4 linked regions of the Homo sapiens genome follow. The protein of the gene in region 2 purifies or fractionates together with the protein of the main gene of each other region. This does not show direct contact. Each region holds a gene or a part of one and is shown on either strand. Other genes may lie near its edges.

Region 1 (3,177 bases), on a different chromosome or scaffold from region 2:
ACCTAATTATTTCCTGCCTCATTCCAAGACTGTAGGTGACTGGTGTGGAGCACTTGTTCTACACAAGACCCTCTGGGTCACCTCACAGATGGGAGTCCTCCAGAGAGGGGGGCTTCACAGCCAGACTCCTTGGAAGAATCTTCTGCACTGGGTGTCCCCTCCTCACTCCTCAGCTGACAAGGGTCAGCGTCCTACTCCCACAGGCCTGTGTCCCCTGGTGACCGAGAGTCACTCCATCTAGTCCTCATCATGCCTGAGCTCTTGCAGCCCGGATGTTGGGACCACCCCCACTCCCTGAAGCAGCTTTTCTCTTGGTTCTTTCCCACCTCATTCTCCTGGTTTCCCACTAAGTTCCTCAGGGTTCAGACCCAGCCCCATTTCTCCCTTCACTCTTGCCTCTTCCTTAGAAAATCTCCTTCACCACCTCTGTGCCAATGACCATTCCGCCTGCATTTTCAGCCCTCACTGCACCCCAAGACTCCAGCTCCATCCATCCTGTGGCTCGAGGAAACCTATGACTGTCCCCCTCCCCATACCTCGCCCACCTGGCCAACCGCCACCCTATCTAGAGGAATGGCATTGCACCTTAGGGGCTATCCCTGCTGACCCTCCCCTCTCCTTCCCCTATATTCAATCTATCCTTAAGACCCATCTGTGTTAGGTCCCGGAGGCTCTGGAATCCCTCCACTTCTCTCTACCATCACTCGCCTCAGCTATTCTAATCTCCTAATAATAGATATCCCCTTCAAATAGGTTCCCTATTCAGAGCCCAAGTGATCTGTTAAAAAGGGAACTTGAATCCTGTCATCCCACTGCTCAAAGGAGTTCTAGTTTTGTATGACTCTGAAGACAAAGATGGAAATCAGTACTGTGGCCCTCAAGGCCCCAAGGGATCTGGTCCCTCTTACCTCCTCTGCCAGCCTCCCATTCTCTGTGGCCTCCAGCTCCTCTGTGGCCTCCAGTTCTTCCGTGTCCCCTCTGCCAAGGACATTCTCCTCCTTTCTAGCTCTACTCGAGCATCCTTTTCTCAGAACAGTGCTGTCTCCTTTTATACCAAACCAGACTCCTTTGTACTACCCTGGAAAAGAACCACGTTCTTCTCCTTCAGAGCTCTCCTTTGGGCTTTTAGTTATTTGTGATCATTATTTTATCCTTCCCAGGCAGAGTCAGACATAGTCTCCACAAGAGCAAAGACCTTTTTCCTGTGTTGTGTACCCAGATTTTAGTTGGTGCTCAACAGATACTTGTCGAATCAATGAATGAGTAATCAGCTTCTTAGCGAGGACACACATAGTATGTCTAGCATTAAAACTTAAGAAAAGAAACTGCAAGATTGGCACACCGAGGATGTGGCATATTTAGTCTTCTTTTAATCAGCAACATGGATAGATTTTTCTAATCAGGACTTTTCAGCATTGGAAAGAAACCTCTGTGTACGTGCGTGTGATTTTCAAGGCAAATATTAAACTTCTTCAAAGGGAGTAGGTGATTTCTACAACTCGGGAAGACTTCCTTCCAGCTAAACTACTTGAAGTGGACACATCATGGGCAGTTTTTAAAATGTGCAAATTAAATCCATTGGCTCCTGCTGACATGGAACTCTGGACACACACTGCTGTAAAGTGAAGGATTTCTTTTTTTCTTTTAGACAGTTATTTCTGAATTGGGCGGCTAATTGGATTTGGTGACACACCCAACTGCCACAGATGCTCTGGCTTGGGAAGGCCCCCAACTCAGTGCAACCTGTTTTATCTGCGGCTTGCTGGTTAAGCTCAGAGACTCCCCCGGTCCTACTCAAAACCTGGAGTCCATTCCCCAGGCTGGACTTGCCTGCCTTTAAGTGGTGTGGATGTCAGAGCTCACCTCAGAGGCTCAACTGAAATCTGGCACAGTCCAGGCCTCCTCTTGCTTTCTGAGACGTCTCCTTTTTGAATTGTTGGGATCTGAAACAGTTTTTGTTGTTTGTTTTCTACCATTTGTGTTCTCGTTTTGTATTATATCAGCAGATCAACAAGATGTGATCTTCTACAGGAAACTGGATGTGGCCAGGCATCCAGGGGAAACTATGGAAGCTCTGTTATTTAGCAAGAGCAGCCCCGGAGAGAGTATCTGGGCTCATATTAGATGGAAGGTCTAGCACGTGGTGGAATTGTCCTCAGTTGTACACTGCACAACAGCAGAGGGCGCTATTCACATCAAATACAATATGAATGGGGCCCTGGAGGTGTGCACCGCAGCCCTGGAGGTAGAGACAACCATTTTAGAGATGAGTAACTTGAAACTCAGATTCATAACCTGCCTAAAGACTGACAGCTAATGAGTGCCAGCACTAGGATTTGAACCCATACTATAATGCTTTGACATTTTAGCACTTAAGGCCTCTTAGCCAAAACAATCACCACTTTTTTGGCAACAGTAAAACTTCCTCTGACTTCCCTGAGAGCCAACTGCCTCTCGGAGTACTATACTACACAGGTAGGCTTCACTGGTCCTTTTCTAAAAACACGTAAAATGATATAAAATGTGAAGAGGCTCTGACTGTTTTGGAACATCCATTAAAAAAAAGGAGAGACTCTTACATTTGGGCTGGAATTAAAATGCAACGGCAGCTGCCTAACACAGGGCAGCAGTTACGAACCATAACACGGTGCCTGGAAACTATGGAGGCTTGGTGGAGGCAGCCACGGTCATGCTGAGGGCTAAAATCAGGGGCCTCCTCTGGTGGGTTTGGAGCCTCGAGATGCCTGCCTGGCAGGCTCGGCTTAAGTAGGAGGTGGGTCTGAGACACCACTTAGCCTACAGAGTGATTCCATTATTGGGATCCTCACAGTTTGGGTGGAAGAAGCTCCACCCATCTCCTAAGGGAAGTCTGTCAGCTACAGTACGAGACATTTCAAAAGAAGTCAAAGGAGAAACCCATCCAACATTGTAAGTGAACTCATTTGGGTTTTTTGGGGGATACAGGGTGGGAAAGGACCAGATAAATGTTAAATCCTAACCTCAACATGTATTTCACTCATGTTTCTCTACTTTAATGGAACATTCCATTACCATTCTTATCTAAAAGGTGCTAAATCCAAGAATCCTATAATGTATTAAATCTCAGAATTCTGTGTTTGGGCAAATGTTTTATCTGAGGAAACAGATCTCTACCGTGGAAAACTACAAAAATGGCAG
Region 2 (3,500 bases):
CTAAACCGTCTCATGCATAAAATGAAAAGTGGAATAATATTTATCATAACCATCGTTGTGGTTATCAAATGATAGAGTATATTAAATGCTTTAGAAACACAACTAAAAAGAAAAACATATTACAAAATATTATAATTAAGGCTTCCCACGTTGTTACTAATAATTATACACAGAGCCCTTTTGGAAGAATGAGCTATCTTTGCTCTTCCTTGACAGAGATATGGTACCACAGCTGATCAAATCATCATAAAATTTTTATTGTTAGTTGGAAATCACAGGCCAGAGGTTGCAAATTGGTGGCCCACCCACTGACTTTGCCCAAACAATGTTTTGTTAGTCACATGCAGTATTTTTTAAAATCTGCATCTAAGTTTTGGGATATTTCACAGAAAAATCCAGATTTTCAGCTATGCAGCAGTTCCCTTTTAGATAGAAAATACATTGTGTTTGCACAGTCCCTACCATTCTCCCCAGCAGAACGGGAGAGGCCAGGGGTCAAATGTCACTTATCCTCATTCCTGTTGCCCTGTTTCCTCCTCCTTGCCCACTTCACTCATTTATACTAGAGTCTGCAAATGCTGAGGAAATCTTTCATTTTGTTAGAAAGAAAAAAAAAAAAAGAGGTCCAGAACAGTTGAGTCATTTACCCAAAGCCAGGATTAACAGCTGAATGTCGGCCAGGCACAGTGGCTCATGCCTATAATCCCAGCACTTTGGGAGGCCGAGGCGGGCGGATCACCTGAGGTCGGGAGTTCGAGACTAGCCTGACCAATATAGTGAAATTCCGTCTCTACTAAAAATACAAAAATTAGCTGGGCGTAGTGGCGGGCACCTGTAACCCCAGCTACTCAGGAGGCTGAGGCAGGAGAATCGCTTGAACCCAGAAGGCAGAGGTTGCAGTGAGCCGAGATCACGCCATTGCACTCCAGCCTGGGCTATAGAGCGAGACTCCGTTTCAAAACAAAAACAAAACAAAAAAACAGCTGAATGTCTACTAAACTCTGACTTCCCACCAGTGCCCCAGCATCACAATGCCCCACCTTCAGGAGAACGCAACACCCTACATCTATCTGCCGGGACGTCACCGGGACTTCGAGAGAAAAGCTAAGGTCCTCTCCCACTTCTACAGCTTTCAGAGTAAGAAAGACCTAAGGATCCGAGCTCAGAGCTATATGACAGCCCTGTCATTTGGTGTCTGTTCAAAACAATAAGAGCACCCTGATTATGCTGGGCCCCCACAAAGACAACGAGACCTTCTCTTCCTGGACTGCACACTCAGTTTACATAGACAAGGACGTCCTCTGCCCCCTCCCTACCCCTCCAAATCAGGCCAGAAATTCCGCCTTCTATTTTCTTTCTGGCTGAGAGATACCAGCAGTTACAGTTTCTCTGGGCCACCATTCAGTGCCAGGCAATGCACTGATAAGCTCTTTGCTGCATTATCACTAATCTTATCAACCAGGCATGATTTTCTCCACTTTATAGATGAGGTCAACTCAAGCTCATTAAAATTAAGTGATTTGGCTCTAGGACTGCCTGACTCCTTGTTGCTGCATGTCACGACCTACCTAAGCTACTCTTTCTCACTTTCTGTGAGTTCTGTTATTATGTAACCACATTTTTAGGGATGTTGATTTTTAGTTGATATTTAGTGATTAAAATCACCATGGAACTGCAGAAATTTCCCCTAAATGACCCAGATGAATTCCTGAAACCCAGCAAAGAAGGAGGGAAATAACAATTTTTTTTTTTTTTTTTTTGAGATGGAGTCTTGCTCTGTCGCCCAGGCTGGAGTGCAGTGGCGCGATCTCGGCTCACTGCAATCTCCAGCTCCTGGGTTCAAGTGATTCTCCTGCCTCAGCCTCCCAAGTAGCTGGGATTACGGTGCATGCCAACATGCCCAGCTAGTTTTTATATTTTTAGTAGAGACGGGGTTTCACCATGTTAGCCAGGCTGGTCTCGAACTCCTGACCTTGTGATCCACCCGCCTCAGCCTCCCAAAGTGCTGGGATTACAGGCGTGAGCCACCGCGCCTGGCCAGAAAGTAACTTTTTAGAGTTCCCAGTGGCCAGAAAAGGAGGCACAGAAGCTTGGCTGCTGTGTTTCCTCTCAAAATCCCGAAGAACACTGTTTGTCAGTGCTTATGCTCCGGTGTCATGCAGTGCTTCAGATCAACATGCAGAGCCTTTCCAAAGCTGTTTACACTACCTGAGACTTCTTTAAGAGATGGGCTTTCACTCTGTTGCCTAGGCTGAAGTACAGTGGTGCGATCATAACTCCCTGCAGCCTCAAACTTCTGGGCTCAAGTGATCCTCCTGCCTCAGCCTCCTAAGTAGCTGGGAATACAGGTGTAAGCCACCAGGCCTGGCTAATTTTTTTATTTTTTATTTTTTTTGAGGTGGAGTTTCACTCTTGTCGCCCAGGCTGGAATGCAATGGCACGATCTCGGCTCACTGCAACCTCTGCCTCCCAGGTTCAAGTGATTCTCCTGCCTCAGCCTCCTGAGTAGCTGGGACTACAGGCGTGTGCCACCACGCCCAGCTAATTTTGTATTTTTAGTAGAGACGGGGTTTCACTATGTTGGCCACAGGTGATCCACCCACCTCGGCCTCCCAAAGTGCTGGAATTACAAGCGTGAGCCACTGCACCCAGCCATCCATCCTCTCTCTTTTCATCACTCTCTCTTTTCACGGGTTTACCAAGGTTTATCAGAATAAGAAGCTAATCAGCAAAAGTGCTTATAGGAGACTCAATTACACTCAGGTTGGGTCTAGCAATATGAATACTATATACGTGTACAAATTTCTTCTATACAGTTGTTCACAGGAACCCTGAGAAATCTGGGAGGATAATTTGCTGCAGCATGTAATAGTCACTACTGGAAGCCCCTCAAACATAAGCATTTCTGACTGTATGATACAGAAACAAACTTTTCAGCAAAGAAGCCATGATCTATATAAGCCAGGAGTCTGCCTGTCTTATTGATTAAAAGTCTAGTTTTTTCCAAAACATAGTTTCCCCTCTCCATCCTTCCTACCCTTCTTCCTTTCTTTTTCTATATCTCTAAGGAAAAAGAAAGGAATTCTTCATTAGCCAACTCAAGGAAAAAGAGCACACTCGTAGGACAGTCCATGAACGAGCTCTGTGATGCTTTTAAACAGAAGGCTTTTCTAGGACAGGGAGGCGGATGGCTTGGACTGACCCTGCAGGCAGCCTCTGAAAGTAAGAAGAGTATCCCCCAAGCTGGGAAAAAGTTCTGACTTCCCTCCCCATATGCTTTTCCCCTTACTTGACTTTTCACAGTCACCAATCCATTTTCCAATCCTACCACATTCTGAATCAGCATCCCAGAATCACCCGAAACATGACTGATCGGGAGCCCTCCCAGGAAGCACAAAGGGGACGCTCCATGAACTTCCCCTTGAACTTGATTCAAACTCAGACTCTCAGTTCAACTTGTGTTTGGTCAGCCAAGGAAAAAGACGAGGTGGGAGAGAACT
Region 3 (3,500 bases), on a different chromosome or scaffold from region 2:
CTCTGTTCACACAAAAACCTATACATGAATGTACATAGCGAGTTTTATGTATAATAGCCCCAACCTGGAAATCATCCAAATGTCCTTCAACAAATAAACTCTGGTACCTCTATACCATGGGATACTGCCCAGCAATAAAAAGGAATAACATATTAATATACAAAACAACCTGGATGGATCTCAGGGGAATCATGGTAGGTTAAACAAAACTCAAAAGGTTATATACCATAGATTCCATTTATATGACATTCTTGAAATAATAATTAGAAAGACAGGGGACAGATCAGTGGTTGCCAGTGCTGTGGCTTGAATGTTTTTGTCCCTCCAAAATTCATGTGTTGGAAACTTATTCCCCAGTGCAACAGTGTTGGGTGGTGGGGTCTTTGGGAAAGTGTTTAGGTTGTGAGGGATCCACCATCAGGAATGAATTCATGTCGCTATAAAAAGGCTTGTGGGAGTGGGTTAACCTCTTTCCTGGCCTTCTGAAGGAAAGTTCATTCCTTTTTGTCCTTCTGCCTTATGCCATGTGAGGACACAGCAAGAAGGCCCTCACCAGACCAAATGCTGGTGCCATGATTTGGACTTACAGCCTCTAGAGCTGTTAGAGAATAAATTTCTTCTATTCTTTATAAACAACCTAGTCTCAGGTGTTACAGCAGCACAAAGTGGACAAAGACACAAGGGGTTGCAGATTGGGTGGGAAGGATGTCAGTGTAGCTATGAAAGGAAGCATGAGGGTGCCTTGCAGTGAAGGAGCAATTCTGTGTCCTGACTGTGGTGGTGGTTCCACAAAGCTACCCATGGTAAGACTGCATTCACAAACACAAACACACACACACACACACACACACACTCACACTCACTACATGCACAACTGGTGCTGTCTGAAGGACCTCTGTGGCTGTGGCACCGAGAATTTTCAGTCTGTGTTATTGTACTATAGTTAAGCAAGATGGAGGATGCTGGGTAATGAATACACAGGATGTCCCTGTGTATTGCCCCCTACTTCCTGTGGATCTATAATTACTTCAAAATAAAAACGTTTTTTTAAAAAATGCACTGGCGGCTGGGTGCAGTGGCTTGCGCCTGTAATCCCAGCACTTTGGGAGGCCAAGGCGGGCAGATCACGAGGTCAGGAGTTCGAAACCAGCCTGGTGAATATGGTGAAACCCCGTCTCTACAAAAAAAATACAAAAATTAGCCGGACGTGGTGGCGTGCACCTGTAGTCCCAGCTACTTGGGAGGCTGAGGCAGGAGAATTGCTGGAACCCAGGAGGTGGAGGTTGCAGTGAGCTGAGATCACGCCACTGCACTCCAGCCTGGGTGACAGAGCGAGACTTTGTCTCAAAAAAAAAAATAGAAATAAATAAATAAATAAATAAATAAATAAATAATGCAGTGGCACTAGAACGGGGGGAAAGGTGCTACTGAATCCACAGCACCTTGTTACTATAGACTTTGCCAACTAAGGAATAAGTAATGGACAGCTATTACCCTGGAGGGTGACGTGAGAGATTTTCTTATTTTTTTTTTGAGACAGAGTCTTGCTCAGTCGCCTGGGCTGGAGTGCAGTGGCACGATCTCGGCTCACTGCAAGCTCCGCCTCTCATGCCATCTCCTGCCTCAGCCTCCCGAGTAGCTGGGACTACAGGAGCCCACCACTACGCCCGGCTAATTTTTTGTATTTTTAGTAGAGACAAGGTTTCACCGTGTTAGCCAGGATGGTCTCGATCTCCTGACCTACACCCGTCTCGGCCTCCCAAAGTGCTGGGATTACAGAAGTGAGCCACCGTGCCCGGCCCCAGAGAGATTTTCTAACCTGAAAAGGGTGCGTACAAAATTATCAAGCACTGGGGATAATGTGGGGCACCCACTATGGAACTTGGGAAATGGGTGTGACCACTTTGGAAACAATTTGGCAGCACCTTGTAAAGTTAAAAATGTGCATACCTTCAGACCCAACAACCCCACTCCCAGGCACCTTGAAACTCTCACACTTTTGCACCAGAAAATAGGCACGAGGATGTTCAAAGCAGTACCATTGCCTCAATCAGTTGTGTAGCAGTTATACCAAAGACACAACACATAGCAGTGAAAAAGAATGAAGTACAACTTCCTGCCACTACACAGGTAAATTTCAATAACAGTGTTGAGCAAGAAAGTCCCAAAGTACACAAAGACATCATTTACATAAACATCAAAGACAAGAAAAAAAGGCAGCATTTAAGGCCACAAGCCCTCATGGCTGACTACAGGATCAAGATGGGCAGCTTTCACATCAGTGACAACCTCTGAGGCAAAGAGACCAGGGTAAGCCCAGAGGAGGCCTCTAGGTACCTGGTGATGATCTATGCCTCAAGTGAGCTAGCGGGTACCCAGTGTTCATTCTATTCTTTAAAATATACAGGCATGAAGTGCACTCTTTTTGTGCACTGGTCTTATGATGTGTGAAAGGATGCATGTTTCAAACAGTTATAATCAACTTTGTAGTTTACTTTTTTTTTTTCTTTTGAGATGGAATCTCACTCTTTCGCCCAGGCTAGAGTGCAGTGGCACAATCTTGGCTCACTGCAACCTCCGCCTCCCAGATTCAAGCGATTCTCCAAGATCAGCCTCCCAAGTAGCTGGGATTACAGGTGTGCGCCAACATGTCCAGCTAATTTTTGTATTTTCAGTAGAGATGGGGTTTCACCATGTTGGCCAGGCTGGTCTTCAACTCCTGACCTCAGGTGATCTGCCTGCCTTGGCCTCCCAAAGTGCTGGGATTATAGGCATGAGCCACTGTGCCCAGCTTGTACTTTACTTTGATCACAGAACAATATCTCATGTTATGACAGGATGACTTTTTTTTTTTTTTTTTTTGAGACACAGCCTCACCCTGTCACCCAGGCTGGAGTGCAGTGGCATGATCTCGGCTCACTGCAACCTCTGAGCCCCAGGCTCAAGTGATCCTCCCGCCTCAGCCTCTCAAGTAGCTGGGACTGCAGGTATGTGCCACCAAGTTCAGCTAATTTTTGTATTTTTTGTAGAGACAGGGTTTCACCATGTTGTCCAAGCTGGTCTTGAACTCCTGAGCCCAAGCGATTGGCCTGCCTTGGCGTCCCAAAGTGCTGGGATTACAGGCATGAGCCAACGCGCCCAGCCAGTAGTGAGCAATTTTAAAATAAACAATAGCATTTTCCAATTTCTGGGCCAAAGCAAACATTTAGCACAAGGCACAAATTTAATAAGAATTATCTGGCCATACTACTATCCTTAGGCCTTTATATGCCCAGAATTAACAAATAAATTGGCCAGGTGCAGTGGCTCACGCCTGTAATCCCAACACTTTGGGAGGCCGAGGCAGGTGGATCACTTAAGTTCAGGAGCTTGAGACCAGCCTGGCCAACATGGTGAAACCCCATCTCTACTAAAAATACAAAAATTAGCCAGGCGTGGTAGCAGGCACCTGTAATTCCAGCTACTTGGGAGGCTGAGGCAGGAGAATCGTTTGAACCTGG
Region 4 (4,189 bases), on a different chromosome or scaffold from region 2:
TTCTCCTGCCTCAGTCTCCCGAGTAGCTGGGACTACAGGCGCCCGCCACCACGCCCGGCTAATTTTTTGTTTGTTTGTTTGTTTGTATTTTTAGTAGAGACGGGGTTTCACCGTGTTAGCCAGGATGGTCTCAATCTCCTGACCTCGTGATCCACCCGCCTGGACTTCCCAAAGTGCTGGGGTTAACAGGCGTGAGCCACCGCGCCCGGCCTGGGTGATGGTTTTAATGCACGGCTCTTACCTGAGAACTTAGGGTGCTAAGCTTTAATTACACTTTTCCATGGTTGCAACAAGCTGCGTTTTCTAAAGCTCTCTTCCTGGACTGGGGAGGCCTTTGGGGCAGGAGTAAAACTTCCTCATTTGCTCCAAGAGTGCTGCTTTCTGGGCTAGGAAGGCGCTGAGACTAGCAGCTGGCTGGACTTCCTGCTGTTAGTTTCATCAGCTTTCTTTTCCCCTGGGAATCCCCGGCAGGCCGCCCCCTTCCCCATCTGAGTGGCGATGCTCAGGTAGCCTCCCCCATTGGCAGGACTCTGCCGCCCCCAGGCTTGCCCACCCTGCATGCTCCAACCCCAGTGTGTTCACTGGAAAGGCCGCTGTCCTGCGCAGAGCTGGTGGCGGACGTGCCTTGCTCTACTGAAGTCCACATCCTAGGGCAGGTGATGAGCAGGAGGGTATAGACCACCAGAGACCCCTGAGGTGTCACCTAAGCAGGGACTTGATGGGAGTGAGCCTCGTGGGGACTCGGGGAGGCTCATCCAAGTGGAGCACAGTGGAGGGGTCGTGTTTGGAGCTGGGTGACCTGAGGGCCCGGGAGGTTGTGGATGGTCTGGGCCAAGTACTGTTCACTTGTTCACCTGGCAGGTCTGAGTTCATGAGTTTGAAGGTAGCCCTACGCGGAGCTAGGAAAAACTGCAAAATGGACTTGTTTCCCTCTGGGGCCTTGAGGGATCCTTGGTTGATAGGGATAGCCAGGCTGGAGCCGATTTAACCTGTGAGTCCCAAATAACCTGGATACACTCTGTCGACTCCTGGGCTCTCCCTCCGGCAGCCCAGTGATGTTTCAAAGCCCAAGGTCCCCACCTCATGTGACAGGCTGAGGATGGCAGACACTTCCCACAAAAGTGGACCTAGCCCTGAACACACACAGCCGGGGGACTTGTTGAGTTTGCACTGAGCTTCCCTCCAAATGAGGAAGGGGGCGTTTTTATGGTGTTGAGTCGCTAAGCCCCGCTCTCCCTAGCTTCCTGTGCTCTCTGGGGACAAAGGTGGGGGGGCCCCTGGAACCCTCTGTGGGCTGGCAGTGTGCTTCCTGCACCCAGCGCCAGCCCGCCCTGGGGAGGGGCTGAACCCGCCCTGCTCGTGATAAGGCACAAGCAAGGGCTGCCCTGAAGGAAGCTCCAAAGAGAAAGGAGGGCAGGAAGCCCACGGCCCACAGGGGTGTAGCCCGAGACCCACCTGCAGCCCCCAGCCCTTGCCAGGAAAGGTAAGCTCAGGCCTCACTGGGACCCTGGGCCCTTCTCTTCCTTATCCTCCTGCAGCCTCTGCCCAGCCTGCCTCTCGCCATGCGGCAGCCTGAACTTTCCACCTCCCCGGAGAGGCTTTGGCTGGTTTGTGATGTTGGCATCTGAGCTGTGGGCCAGGATCGGAACTACTTCCTGGCCTGGGTACGAAGCCATGGCCAGAGTGGGCAGCTGCCCCTGAGGGTCTGGGAGTGAGCTGTGGGCTGGCATTGAGCACGGTGGTCCTGAGTGAGCCCCTTCTTACCCGGCCTCAGTCTGCCCGCCTGTAGGATGGGAGCGGATTGGACTACATGGTCTCTGAGGGCCCTCGCGGCTCAAGCGCCAGCGCTGGAGAGAGAGTCTGAGGGTACCACGGGCGTGCTGGCCTGGGTGCTCACTCCCGCCCTCCTTCATGAGCGGCTTTCCTCTGGGTGTGTCCAGGGCATCACAGAGCTCTTCTGCCCAAACCCGGAGGCCTACCAGGGCCTGCCCACCTTGCCTCCTTCCACACTCTCTGTAGCAGCAGCCGCAGCCATGGCGGGGATGAAGACAGCCTCCGGGGACTACATCGACTCGTCATGGGAGCTGCGGGTGTTTGTGGGAGAGGAGGACCCAGAGGCCGAGTCGGTCACCCTGCGGGTCACTGGGGAGTCGCACATCGGCGGGGTGCTCCTGAAGATTGTGGAGCAGATCAGTGAGTGTCCGCTGCCCGCTTGCTGAACTCGGCACCATGGGCGGCCGCCACGGGTGTCTCTGGGCACTTCCGGGCCATCCCTGCTGCTCAGCTCCCGATAATGGTGTCACGGTGACTCAGGCATTAGCTTAATCATTTGGTTCCAAAAAAGACATTTCCCCAACTTCCTCTCCCTCCCACCCTCTTCCCTCCCTCCCTTCTGCTGCAGCTGGTCTGCTAAGGATCAGACGCAGCCACAATCCTCCATTCAGCCACCAATAGGGGCAGAAGGAGTGGTCTTGTCTGGGCCGAGGCTGAAGTCACATTGCTGAGGTCTGAGGGGGTCTAGGTGACCCAGGGGCCTGCCCCCACGCTCCCTCCCCTTGGCGGAAGCTTTGAGCAGGTTGGTGACAGGCCCAGCCTGGGTGGGAAGGCCCTGCCCCCACAGGAAGTTACAGCAGAGCAGCTGTGGTATCAGTCATGGAGGACCACGGGGCTAGTGACACGGGGGCTCCTCATCTTCCTTCCCTGCCGGGGGTGGGGGCTACCCCTTCCTGAGAGAGCAGCAGGAAGACCCCGATAGGCAGAGCCGGAAGACAGGCCCACCACAGTCCCGGCCAAGAGCCTGGGCCTGGGCTGCCAGTGGGTGGGGGGTGGGTGATGGTGGGGAGGCTTCCTCAGACCCCGCCAGGCCACCATGTGCAGCACAGGAGGAGGTCAGTCCGACTGTGGAGAGGATAGGGTCCAGAACGGCCCGGCCACAAGACTGAGGCTGTGAGGGGAGCTGCCAGGGGCAGGGCCCGGAGCAGCTGTGAGAATAGAAGTGAGGAACAGAGAGAGGGTGGTGAAGACCTGGGTGGCCCCAGGGCACGGCATGAGGGTAACGCAGGAGGCCTTAACCTGGAGTCAGACAGACCCCGCTGCTCTACCCGCTGCTGGGCACCCCAGGGCAAGTTCCTTTAGCTCTGTGTTCCCTGTGGTGGGGATACTGTCACTCCTAAGCACATCAGCTCTGTCTACTGATGCTCAGCCTGGCCGCCCCGGGCCAGTCCCTGGCCTCCTGGAGCAGCAGCGGGTGAGACTGACCCATGGGGGCTGCGTGCCGGCTGCCGCACAGAGGGCGCTATCATGGGGGCCTGGAGCCAGAGGAGGGGGCTGCCCCGAGCCCAGGATGGGGATAACCCCAGGAGAAGTCCTGAGAGGTGGCCTCAGCAGGGAGGAGCAAGGTGGTGGCGCTGGGACTCGGAGGGCTGTGAATTAGGGCTCTCGGCTGGTGAGGATGCTGGGAGCGTGACCAGAAATGAGGCTGGCTGGTGCCTGGCCAGCTCTGCATGGCCCCGAAGGCCTCCAGAAGGGGTCTAGACTTTCTTCTGGAGGGGAAGGTGGCCACCGAAGGGTTCTCAGCAGGAGGCTGTCCTGCTAAGGTCAGCAGCAAGGCGAAAGGCTGGTGGCGGCAGGCCCCTGAGGAGGCTGTGGTCCTGGTTAGAGACACCAGGGCCTCCTAAGGCCGGGCAGGGAGGATGGAGAGGAGGGTGGATTTTAGAGGTGGGATTGGCATTGATTACATGTGGTGGCTAGAAGAGAAAGGGAGGATGCCTGGGCCTTTGGCGCGAGTCCGTGTCCCCCAGCCCTGAGAGGTGGTGTAGGGAGCTGGTGAGGAGGGGGAGCTGGCTAGGAGAGGGCACCTCTGTGCACAGCGAGTCTGAGCTGAGCTCCAAAAGCCGAGACCAGGAGTCATGGTGCTTACAGTCCCAGTGTCAGCCACTCGGCCACAGGAACAGAGGGTTCTGGAAAGGAGGAAGCCGGTGGACAGGCCCCTCAGCTGGCAGCACATGGGTTTCTGGCTGGGGGCCCAGGGCAGGGTCTGGGCCGAGGGCCACGCATGGGGAGGCAGCAGAAAATGGCAACTGAAACCACAGAATAGGGAGACCCAGTAAGGGGACCTGGCCGAGGCAGGAGAAGAGGGTCCCAGGCCGAACCTGGGGAAAGGACAAGGTAAGGGGCCGGTCAGGAGAGG

What was found.
Region 1: the proteins of PLEKHA2 (region 2) and RFTN1 purify together in Homo sapiens (affinity purification with mass spectrometry, with the first as the bait; one large-scale study listed by BioGRID). This does not show direct contact.
Region 3: the proteins of PLEKHA2 (region 2) and PRPSAP2 purify together in Homo sapiens (affinity purification with mass spectrometry, with the first as the bait; one large-scale study listed by BioGRID). This does not show direct contact.
Region 4: the proteins of PLEKHA2 (region 2) and FERMT3 purify together in Homo sapiens (affinity purification with mass spectrometry, with the first as the bait; one large-scale study listed by BioGRID). This does not show direct contact.

What each region holds. Positions count from the first base shown.
Region 1 is NC_000003.12:16,318,523-16,321,699, reverse strand, and holds part of RFTN1 (raftlin), read left to right. Parts: exon of another isoform or gene 1-2,239; intron 2,240-3,177. UniProt on the Homo sapiens protein: Involved in protein trafficking via association with clathrin and AP2 complex.
Region 2 is NC_000008.11:38,946,346-38,949,845, reverse strand, and holds part of PLEKHA2 (pleckstrin homology domain-containing family A member 2), read right to left. Parts: intron 1-3,500. UniProt on the Homo sapiens protein: Binds specifically to phosphatidylinositol 3,4-diphosphate (PtdIns3,4P2), but not to other phosphoinositides. May recruit other proteins to the plasma membrane.
Region 3 is NC_000017.11:18,924,131-18,927,630, reverse strand, and holds part of PRPSAP2 (phosphoribosyl pyrophosphate synthase-associated protein 2), read right to left. Parts: intron 1-3,500. UniProt on the Homo sapiens protein: Seems to play a negative regulatory role in 5-phosphoribose 1-diphosphate synthesis.
Region 4 is NC_000011.10:64,205,332-64,209,520, forward strand, and holds the start of FERMT3 (fermitin family homolog 3 short isoform), read left to right. Parts: upstream 1-1,389; 5' UTR 1,390-1,483; intron 1,484-1,538; exon of another isoform or gene 1,539-1,664; intron 1,665-2,019; 5' UTR 2,020-2,033; coding exon 2,034-2,193; intron 2,194-2,374; exon of another isoform or gene 2,375-2,575; intron 2,576-4,189. UniProt on the Homo sapiens protein: Plays a central role in cell adhesion in hematopoietic cells. Acts by activating the integrin beta-1-3 (ITGB1, ITGB2 and ITGB3). Required for integrin-mediated platelet adhesion and leukocyte adhesion to endothelial cells.